Regions from separate parts of the Homo sapiens genome. Here region 2 is linked to region 1. Evidence: fine-mapped expression QTL. A gene starts in region 1. The other region holds a variant in brackets. All regions are shown on one strand. Distances are between the middles of the regions.

The links. PIP is the estimated chance that this variant, and not a neighbour inherited with it, causes the effect. A credible set is the group of variants that fine-mapping cannot tell apart.
Region 2: its variant is the best candidate, but not a certain one, in a credible set for the expression of IPMK in whole blood (INTERVAL, PIP 0.75).

The regions. Positions count from the first base shown.
Region 1 is chr10:58,266,095-58,270,486 of GRCh38, reverse strand. IPMK (inositol polyphosphate multikinase) reads left to right here and starts at 2,593. Exons shown (of 6, transcript NM_152230.5): 1 at 2,593-3,065. The coding sequence starts at 2,876. It overlaps CISD1 (CDGSH iron sulfur domain 1), which reads right to left and starts at 1,325. Exons shown (of 3, transcript NM_018464.5): 1 at 1,183-1,325. The coding sequence starts at 1,213. RefSeq lists silencers at 898-947, 1,538-1,597, 2,303-2,812 and enhancers at 1,168-1,217, 1,063-1,619, 3,064-3,358, 3,313-3,422.
Region 2 is chr10:58,343,245-58,347,636 of GRCh38, reverse strand. All of the region lies in intron 1 of UBE2D1 (ubiquitin conjugating enzyme E2 D1), which reads right to left. Among named protein-coding and RNA genes, the nearest start is that of UBE2D1, 10 kb to the right of the region's middle. The variant A/T (reference allele first, on the strand shown) is at 2,329.

The sequences.
Region 1 (4,392 bases):
ATTTCACAAGTCTTAATCCCAAGAGAATATAGTTTTTTAAAAAACAAAAACAAAAATCACACCCTATTTTAAATGCACCAAGCTGCCTCTATTAAAAAAAGTCTCAAGATGAGTATCCTTTAATATAATTTTTGCAAATAATAATCTCTATATCATTAGTAACTTCGAAATGTCATGGAATATCACCCTTAGCCAGGTAAATTTTGTCAACAGAAGTGGAACTCTCCAATTTTTGGAAACTACCTATTAAAAAATTAGGGCTCAAGTTAGTAGGGACTTTTTATTACCTGGCACTACAGATGTTCAATATTTACTGAACGTATTTTTAATTAACCTCTAGACAGTCTCTTTGCCTTTACTCAAAACCTTGCGAAGTGGCGTTTTATAGAGGGGCAAAGATCACATATATTGTGTGTCTGGTACACAGTATTATATTAACAATTATAACATCACCAAGAATGGTTATAAAGTGAAACTCCACATTAAATGACTGCTTATAAAGTCTCTTAATTTTATTATAACGGGACTTTCTGCGAAATACTGTTTCCAAACGCTAGGTACTAGCACAGGGGAAAGAAGACTCAGAAAGCTGAAGGTTCAACGAACGCAGTTTTCAATCCTTTATCCTGGACTACTGCCACCGAGTGTCAGATGCCAGAGGAATAATAAAAAACCGGGAAAACTGAAAACCTCGGATTGCGTTTCATCCCTTAAAAAAAAATCTGCAAAACTAAGATGTGATTAGTCACGCAATGCTTCAGGATTGCAGGAAATCGACGTTGTGGCCCGACGCTGACTGAAACATGAGAAGGGCAAACAGGTTTGCTGTTGTTTTCTCCCACCTTTCCTTCTTTTCCAGGCTATGTGACTTAAGGACATGAAAGCGTCTTAGGGGTGAACAAGAAAAGCTAGCGGCGCGGTCATTAGGTGTTAGGGTTTGGCTAGCTGGGGTAAACGTGGACTCTGGTCCGGCATGGCCCCAAACCATCAATCCATCCCTGACCTCGCCCCCTTTCGCTGTCCGGCCCGGAGCCCGCAGCCGGGCCGAGCGCTTGCCCTTCTGCATCTCAAGGTTATAGGACCGGCGGGCGCGTAGGGCAGTGGTAAAACAACCCAGTCGAACTGCGGGCGCGGCAACCGCTGAGCCTCACCAGCCTCACCCGCTCCCAGGCCCCACTTCACCTCGTACGCTGGAACTGGAAGTCAGACTCATGGCGCCGTCGCTTGCAAGGCGTGTGCACTAGGATACCGAGCTCAAACGGGTTCGCGCGGCCGGCGAGAGTAAAGGTGCCAGCGGCGTACTAAAGCACCGACTCCGCGATGCTACCGCGCAGGCGCCGCGGCGGGTCGTAGGCACGTGTGTGAGCTCGACCCTGGTAGGTGCTGAGCATGCGTGGAGCTGTCCTGGCCATAAGGAAGTCTGGACTCCGGATTTTGACAGCTACGGGAGGTGGGAGGAGGAAAAGACTTAGGTAGCAACAGAGTTTGCGCAACGCCGAGGGGCGGGGCCCTGAAGCCGAGGGGCGGGGCCCTGAAGCCGAGGGGCAGGGCCCTGGGATTAGGGAATCCAGGCCAGATTTTACGTCTCTTCCAGGTGTGTGGGCTTCTGGGGGCAGAAACAGGTGTTAATAGGACACTTACTTTAATCAGATACCTAAGATTTGACCCCAGTTTTTCTTGCTCGGGGCTTGTGACGATTTACCTTCAAGGCCAGGTCCAGCTTTTATATAACATGCCAGCGGCGGACATACAGGAATCAATGACTGAGTCCCATTCCAGAACCTCGCGTAGCTACCGGTGTCCATCCCTTTCTGCTTTTGATATAATTATCTACTCAGGACCTTGGAACCTGCACTATCTTAAAGGTCGAGTGGGAGAGAAAAAACTTGCTCCTTTCTTTAAAAAACATGTTCACTTAAAAAAATTAGAAGTTTTCTCTGTCTTCTACAGTCTGAAATTCGTGTCGGTTCCAATTTTATTTTATTTTTATGTGTTTTACTTTTTGGTAAGAGCGGTTTAGAGACAGCAATCCGGGGAGGGGGGCTGAGATTAACTCGAAGGGTATTTTGAAGGCGCATCTCTAATAAGCTGCCTGCTTTTACTTCTGTTGTTTTCGTGCGGGGTGGGAGTTGGAGGGAGTTGAGTGCAGTTAGGGGTGGCCTTTAGAGCCACCCTTGGCAATGCTAGTGCCTTCCAATTCTTGCCGGACTGCTCCGCACACTTAGAAGTCCCTGGCTTCTCTGAGCTGACGCGCTGAGAAGCGTGTTGAATGAATGAGGCCACAGCAGCACGCGTGACTTCGAAATGCCCGCGGGGTGGGGGTGAGAAGAAACAGGGGTGCGCTCGCCCTATCCCTGTCGCCGTCGCCAGGTCCTGGCAGCACGGCGCGCCCGCCCCGCTGACTTGGGGGGCCGGAATCCCGTTGGACGGCCTCTGGGCATGCTCAGTAGCGGCGGCAGCGGCGGTGCGGGCGGCGGTGACGCGCGCGCGGCAGCTGAGGGGACTGGAGGACGGCGGGAGGGGGCGGGGGCGCAGGAGGTGGGNCCGCCGTCGCCGTCAGGGCCCCAGGGAGCGCGGGGCGCCGCTGCTGCTGTTCTTCGGCTCGGTTCTGTCTACCGGGCAGCGCCGGGGCCGGCGGCTGCGGCGGCAGAGGAACAGGAGCCGGGAGCCGCGTTCCGCCGAGAGTTGGGCAGAGGAGCGCCCGCGCCCCGGCGGCGTCATGGGCCCCCTCCCCGCGCTTCAGAGGGCACCAGCCGCGGGAACCCCCGGGCCTCCTCGCGCCCGAGCCTGAGCGACCCTCGGGTTCTCCGGCGCCCCCTCCCTCGCCCTATTTTTTTTCCTACTCTCGCTGCCGTTACCGCTTCTGCTCTCCGTTATGGCAACAGAGCCACCATCCCCCCTCCGGGTCGAGGCGCCGGGCCCCCCAGAAATGCGGACCTCACCGGCGATCGAGTCCACCCCTGAGGGCACCCCGCAGCCGGCGGGCGGCAGACTCCGCTTCCTCAACGGCTGCGTGCCCCTCTCGCATCAGGTGGCCGGGCACATGTACGGGAAGGACAAAGTGGGTAAGTGGGGGTGGCATAGGTCTCGCCGCTCCCCTTCCGCCTGTGCGAGCCCCCTGTCAGCGGAGGCAGCCTAGCGCTCTCGGGCCTGCCTGGACGCCCCCCTGGTGTGCACGCCAAATCCCTGGCCTCTTCCGCTGTCCCCCGAAGCCTCGCCACTCGAGCAGAAGGGGCTCGGAAAGTGGGACAATTCCTAGGGTGTGGGTCGTCAGGCTTGCAGCACGGGTGGCAGGGAGAGGCGTGTCTGGTCTCACCCACCCCCCAGGGAGGTTGGGTGTTGATTGGAGACGGCGTTGTTAGTGAAAATAAGGAACTTCATTTTTACTGGACGGGGAAGTAAATTCTCCCTTGAGCACAAGGTCTGTTTATTATAGGCGAGTAGCTATTGCAAAAGAAAAGGAATGAAATGCAGATGATGCTAATCTAGTACTTCTCTGCTGGGTGCAGCTGCATAGCTGGAGGGGAAGAAAAACACTGGGCTTTTTTAGGGGGAGGTGAGAAGGGAAGAAAGCTTGTCCGTGATTTTTCCCTGTCCCTTGAGGAGGTTTTTCTGGTGTCTCCTTGATTTCTCTGGGAGGCGTGGTTCCAGTAGTGCAGAAACTCGGATTCCTGGTGGGAAATTCACACGCATATTGTACCAGAATGATACACAAAATGTTCAGCTATTCTTGTTCATTTTATAAGGCTGTATCATGGCCACTGTAATACATTTTCTGAGTTCACAAGTTTAAAGCCTATCTCAGTTTAGGAACTCTAATTCATCTAGTTTACCCGTAGTGGTTCCCTGGGCCATGATTACTGGGGTAATCTGATGGATGAGTATGTGAGTATTGTGGATCTTTGACCCGGAAGAGCCACTAGAGACAATTTAGTTTATGCCGGTAAAACGATTCGGGTTTAGGTTGCTAATACTGACATTTTTAGACGAGGTGACTAAGGCCAACCCTGGTTAAGAATGACGTGCCTGAAGTCACGTTACAATATGTTAAGAATTGTGAAACCAAGAGTTCTTCCTTTGAGTACTGTATTTTTTCACCATGTATTGTGTTTGCTGAAACAACTCAAGGCTTTTAGAAAATGGATAAGTATTAATTTGAGTATATGCTATTTCTCAAAGCGACATTTTCCACTACTTTTATTTTTACCTACTTTGTTTGTGTGCCTTTCTCCCCACTGAATTGTGAATTCCTAGATGTTAGAGAGAGAATCTGTATTCTCTCATAGCCTTGTGCACGGACTGGGAATCAGTAACACTCAGGAAATATTGAATAGTGAAAATTGACAGTTGTTTTAGTATACCGAGGTAAAGAAACAACGTCCTCAAGTTGCT
Region 2 (4,392 bases), 77 kb before region 1:
TGTAATTTAGAATAAAAGCTTGAGGTCAGAATTACAGACATTATTTACTCAGTGCCTCACATCTCAACCACTTTCCCCCAGTTTTCTCTGCACCAGGCATAATGATTCAATTTCCCAAAATGCTATCTTGCCTCTACTTTCAAACATGGCTTCCTGTTTAGATGGCGGACTCTTGATCACACTCTCTACATATAATATTTCCATCAGAGGAATTACATAAATAAAAATCGATTTTAGACAAATCCAAAGTAGCCAAGTAAAAGCTGTATTTGAATCTGTTTTATGAAGGCTTACAGTAAAAATGCATTTATTCGTTCTAGTAATTCAAACTCTAAACCTTGGAGTTACCATCTAATTCTTCTCTTCACATCCCACTCCTTCACAATTTGAAAAGTACCAAATTGTTCAGATTCTCCTTCTGTCTAGATCCCTCCCTCTGAAAGGGTCCCAGAAGGCCCATCAAATAGGACAGCTGAGGTCCAACGTGTAGAAGAGTCTGATATAAGCCAGAGGAGAGGTAGTTTAGGATAAGAACCCAAAGGTTCCAGCCAGGCAGACAATCTTAATATCTGGGACCAGACTGGATAACAGAAGGAGGAATCTGAAGAGATTGCCTAGACCAGGGAGCCTGTGATACTTGACTTGAAAGGCCAAGAAGGTGTAGGCATAGATGGATCACACCAACTCAAAAGGGCCAGGTGGTACAAACACCCTGTAATTTTTGTCATATATCCCTCTTTTCAATGTCCTCTGCTAACACTGTAGCTTAGACCCTCTTTGGATCTCACTTAAGTGCAATATCTTAACTTACCTACTGTCCTCCTATTTTTCTACCTATACACTGCTGCCAAAATCATCTTCTTGAAGAGCCATGTCAAACCTCTTCGATGTTTTCCATTCACCTTCATGTAAGACTTATAAGTCCTTAAAATGACTTGCCAGACCTTCCAAGACGTGACTTCTTTCTAGCGTCATATCTGCAACACTTTTCCCCAGTGCTCTCTGCACCAGCCATGACTTTTAATCTTGCCTTTAGTTGCAAACATGGCTTCCTTTTCGGCAGAAGATACTTAATCACCTCCCCTCCCCAAAACACACTTTCTCCCTCATTCTTTCATTTTATCTACTTTACTTTTACTTTCTTGTCTCATCTTAAACATCATTGCCTTCAGGTTTTCCCTGAAACCTTCAATGGGTCCCTGCTATATTCCTAGAATACTCCATGCATCCCTTTTCATGACATTAATCAAAATTATAATGACAAACAGTAAACAATCTTGAGTTTGATGAGGGCAAGGATGCCTATGATTAAGAGTGTTCATTCCGGCCGGGTATGGTGGCTCACGCCTGTAATCCCAGCACTTCGGGAGTCTGAGGCGGGCAGATCATTTGAGGTCAGGGGTTCGAGACCAGCCTGACCAACATGGTGAAACCCAGTCTCTACTAAAAAATACAAAAATTAGCCGGGCATGGTGGTGCACGCCTGTAGTCCCAGCTACTTGGGAGGCTGAGGCAGGAAAATTGCTTGAACCTGGGAGGCAGAGGTTGCAGTGAGCAAAGATTGTACCACTGCACTCCAGCCTGGGTGACAGAGTGAGACTCCGTCTAAAAAAAAAAAAAAAAAAAGTATTAGCTCCTATTACTCAAAAACCTTCAATGGCTTCCCCAATCTTCTGCATTAAGTACATATTTCTCAGCACAGGCCTTCAAGGTTGTCTACAATATGAAGCTTTATGGTCTACTGTTTCTGAACGATTCCCAAAAGCAGGATTATCTGCTCCTTCCCAAATAAGCCAAGCATATTCTAGTGTCTTCATTTCCGTAGCTTCCTCTACAAGCCTGGCTCCCCTAAGTCTTTCAAAATGCTATCCAGTCTTCCCAACCTATATCAAATTCCATCTTCTCCACAGTTTTTCCTGATTTTCCCAAATAAATTTGGCCTCTCCCATCTTTGACTCCCTTCCTGTTTAAATATATTGTATTTTCTGTTTGGTACTTTCCTAAATCCATCTAGTTGTTACAGGACTTTTCTTACACTTATTAATTTTAAATTTCTTAGATAATGGTGATACCTGTTTTTCTACATAACTAGCATCTCCTTACTGCATTTAATATATGCCTTGTATCAGAAGGTGTTTGATAAATGCATTAACTTGAATCTTTTGAGACAGGGTCTTGCTGTCATACAAGCTGAAGTGCAGTGGCACAATCACAGCTCACTGTAATCTTGAATTCCTGGGCTCAAGTGATCCTCCCACCTCAGCCTCCCAAGTAGCTGAGACTACAGGCACGTGCCACGATGCTGAGCTATTTTTTAATTTTTTTTTT[A/T]AAATAAATGGGATCTCACTATGTTGCCCAGGATGGTCTCAAACTCCTGGGCTCAAGTGTTTCTTCTGCCTCGGTCTCCCAAAGTTCTGGGATTACAGGCATGAGCCACGTGCCCAGCACTGAATCTTAAAAATCTATTACATAGGCTGGGCACCATGGCTCTCACCTGTAATCCCAGCACTTTGGGAGGCCAAGGCGGGTGGATCACTTGAAGTCAGGAGTTCGAGACCAGCCTGGACAACATGGCAAAACCCTGTCTCTATTAAAAATACAAAAATTAGCCAGGCATGGTAGTGCACACCTGTAGACCCAGCTACTCAGGGGGCTGAGACATGAGAATCCCCTAAACGCAGGAGGTGGAGGTTGCAGTGAGCTGAGATCATGCCACTGCAGTCCAGCCTGGGTGACAGAGCCAGACTTTGTCATTAAAAAAAAAAAAAACAAAAAAACTATTACCTATAAGGCAGCTGTGCAGCTGTGTATGGCAGTTGTCTAAATATGTGGATAAAACAATCTTAAGTACAAAAGCTAACAAATAGAGAAAAGCTAAATGGAATTAGAGAACCACGTTATGTTACCAGTGCAATAATAGAAATACATTTTATTTGCATCATAAATAATTGCTCTTTAGTTAGAGAATAAGATTTATTGACCTTATACATTAAGAGATGTCAACATTTATTTCAAATCTGATATTTCAAAGTAAATGGAATTTTAAGTCAAGTCTAATATAGCTCCATAGCACAGTGCCAAAGCTCAGTGTTTGTTTTTGTGATCACTGTTGTTTGCTGCAAAAAAAAAAACAGCAAATACATTATTTAGGTTTGCCTAAAATTATGATTCAGAAGAGATGACAGAAAGTATCAAGTTCAATCCATTAAGTTTCCAAGTGAGGAGTATAAAGACTGAGTCTCCTGGCCAAGGTCACAAAGCCAAACTAGGACAAAGGGACAGACCATCTGACTTCTACTCCAGCACTCTTCCCACCCCAATTCAATACTCACCTCAACACTGTAACAGCTAGAGCACATTATTTTCAACCAACACTGAAGCAAACAATGCTCCAGTACTGTATTAAGGCCATTTGCACATTTTTAGCTATGCTCCAGAGAAACAAAAGTGTGATAAGTGAAGGAATGAGAAGGAATTCTTATCTTTTCTCAGGAGCTTATATCATATAAAAGGTTAGAAACGAATACTATTTCATAAGCTTTCAGGAGCGTTGTGTTTAAAGACACTCTGAGAGTCAAGAAAAACTTTACAGGAAATTATACACAACTTAAATAAATAGAATTTTCACATAAAATATGCAAATGGAGCATTTTGAGTGCTCCATTATCAAAACTTACTATTTACTTTACAGTAACCAAAAAAAGATGGAAGAAAAAAGAGAGAAAACCTAGCTGCCTATTTATTAAAACGTGTGTAAAACATGAACATGCCTACCAATACCTACCAAATATTTGTTATTAAATATTGCTTCTTACAGCTCTATACCTAATAACTGGCATATAGTGGGCACTTGAGTGTTTCATAATAAATTCTCTACTCTCTGTTAGTATCATCCAGTATTATTCTTGAATATTATGGTTGTACATCAGTCACTAAAATGCTGCTACTTGTAGAAGAAAACAATGCATACGGTCTGTATCAAATGCAAACGTTTCCAAGGCTAGAACAGTTTACATTATGTGTATATGTGTATCAATATATTTGTGTGTCTCTGTGTATGTGTATATGTATTCATTTGCTCTCCCTATATATGTATACATGTATATGTATGGTTGTATGGCATGTATTTTTAACATTAATTTTACCTAAGGATCTTATGTTATGGAACAGTGATTTTCCAGCTTTCCTTACAGCAATTTATAATATGAAAAAGATTTTACATTACAACCTAGTACACACACACACACTAAAACAAATTTCATGAAACAACACCCTTACTATATGCAAAGCACTAATATTTTCTATTCCATTTTAAAAAGTGGATGTTTATTATTCACTAAACTGTTTGGAAACTCATAAAAGAGAAAAAAAAAGATACTGGGAAGGTGTACA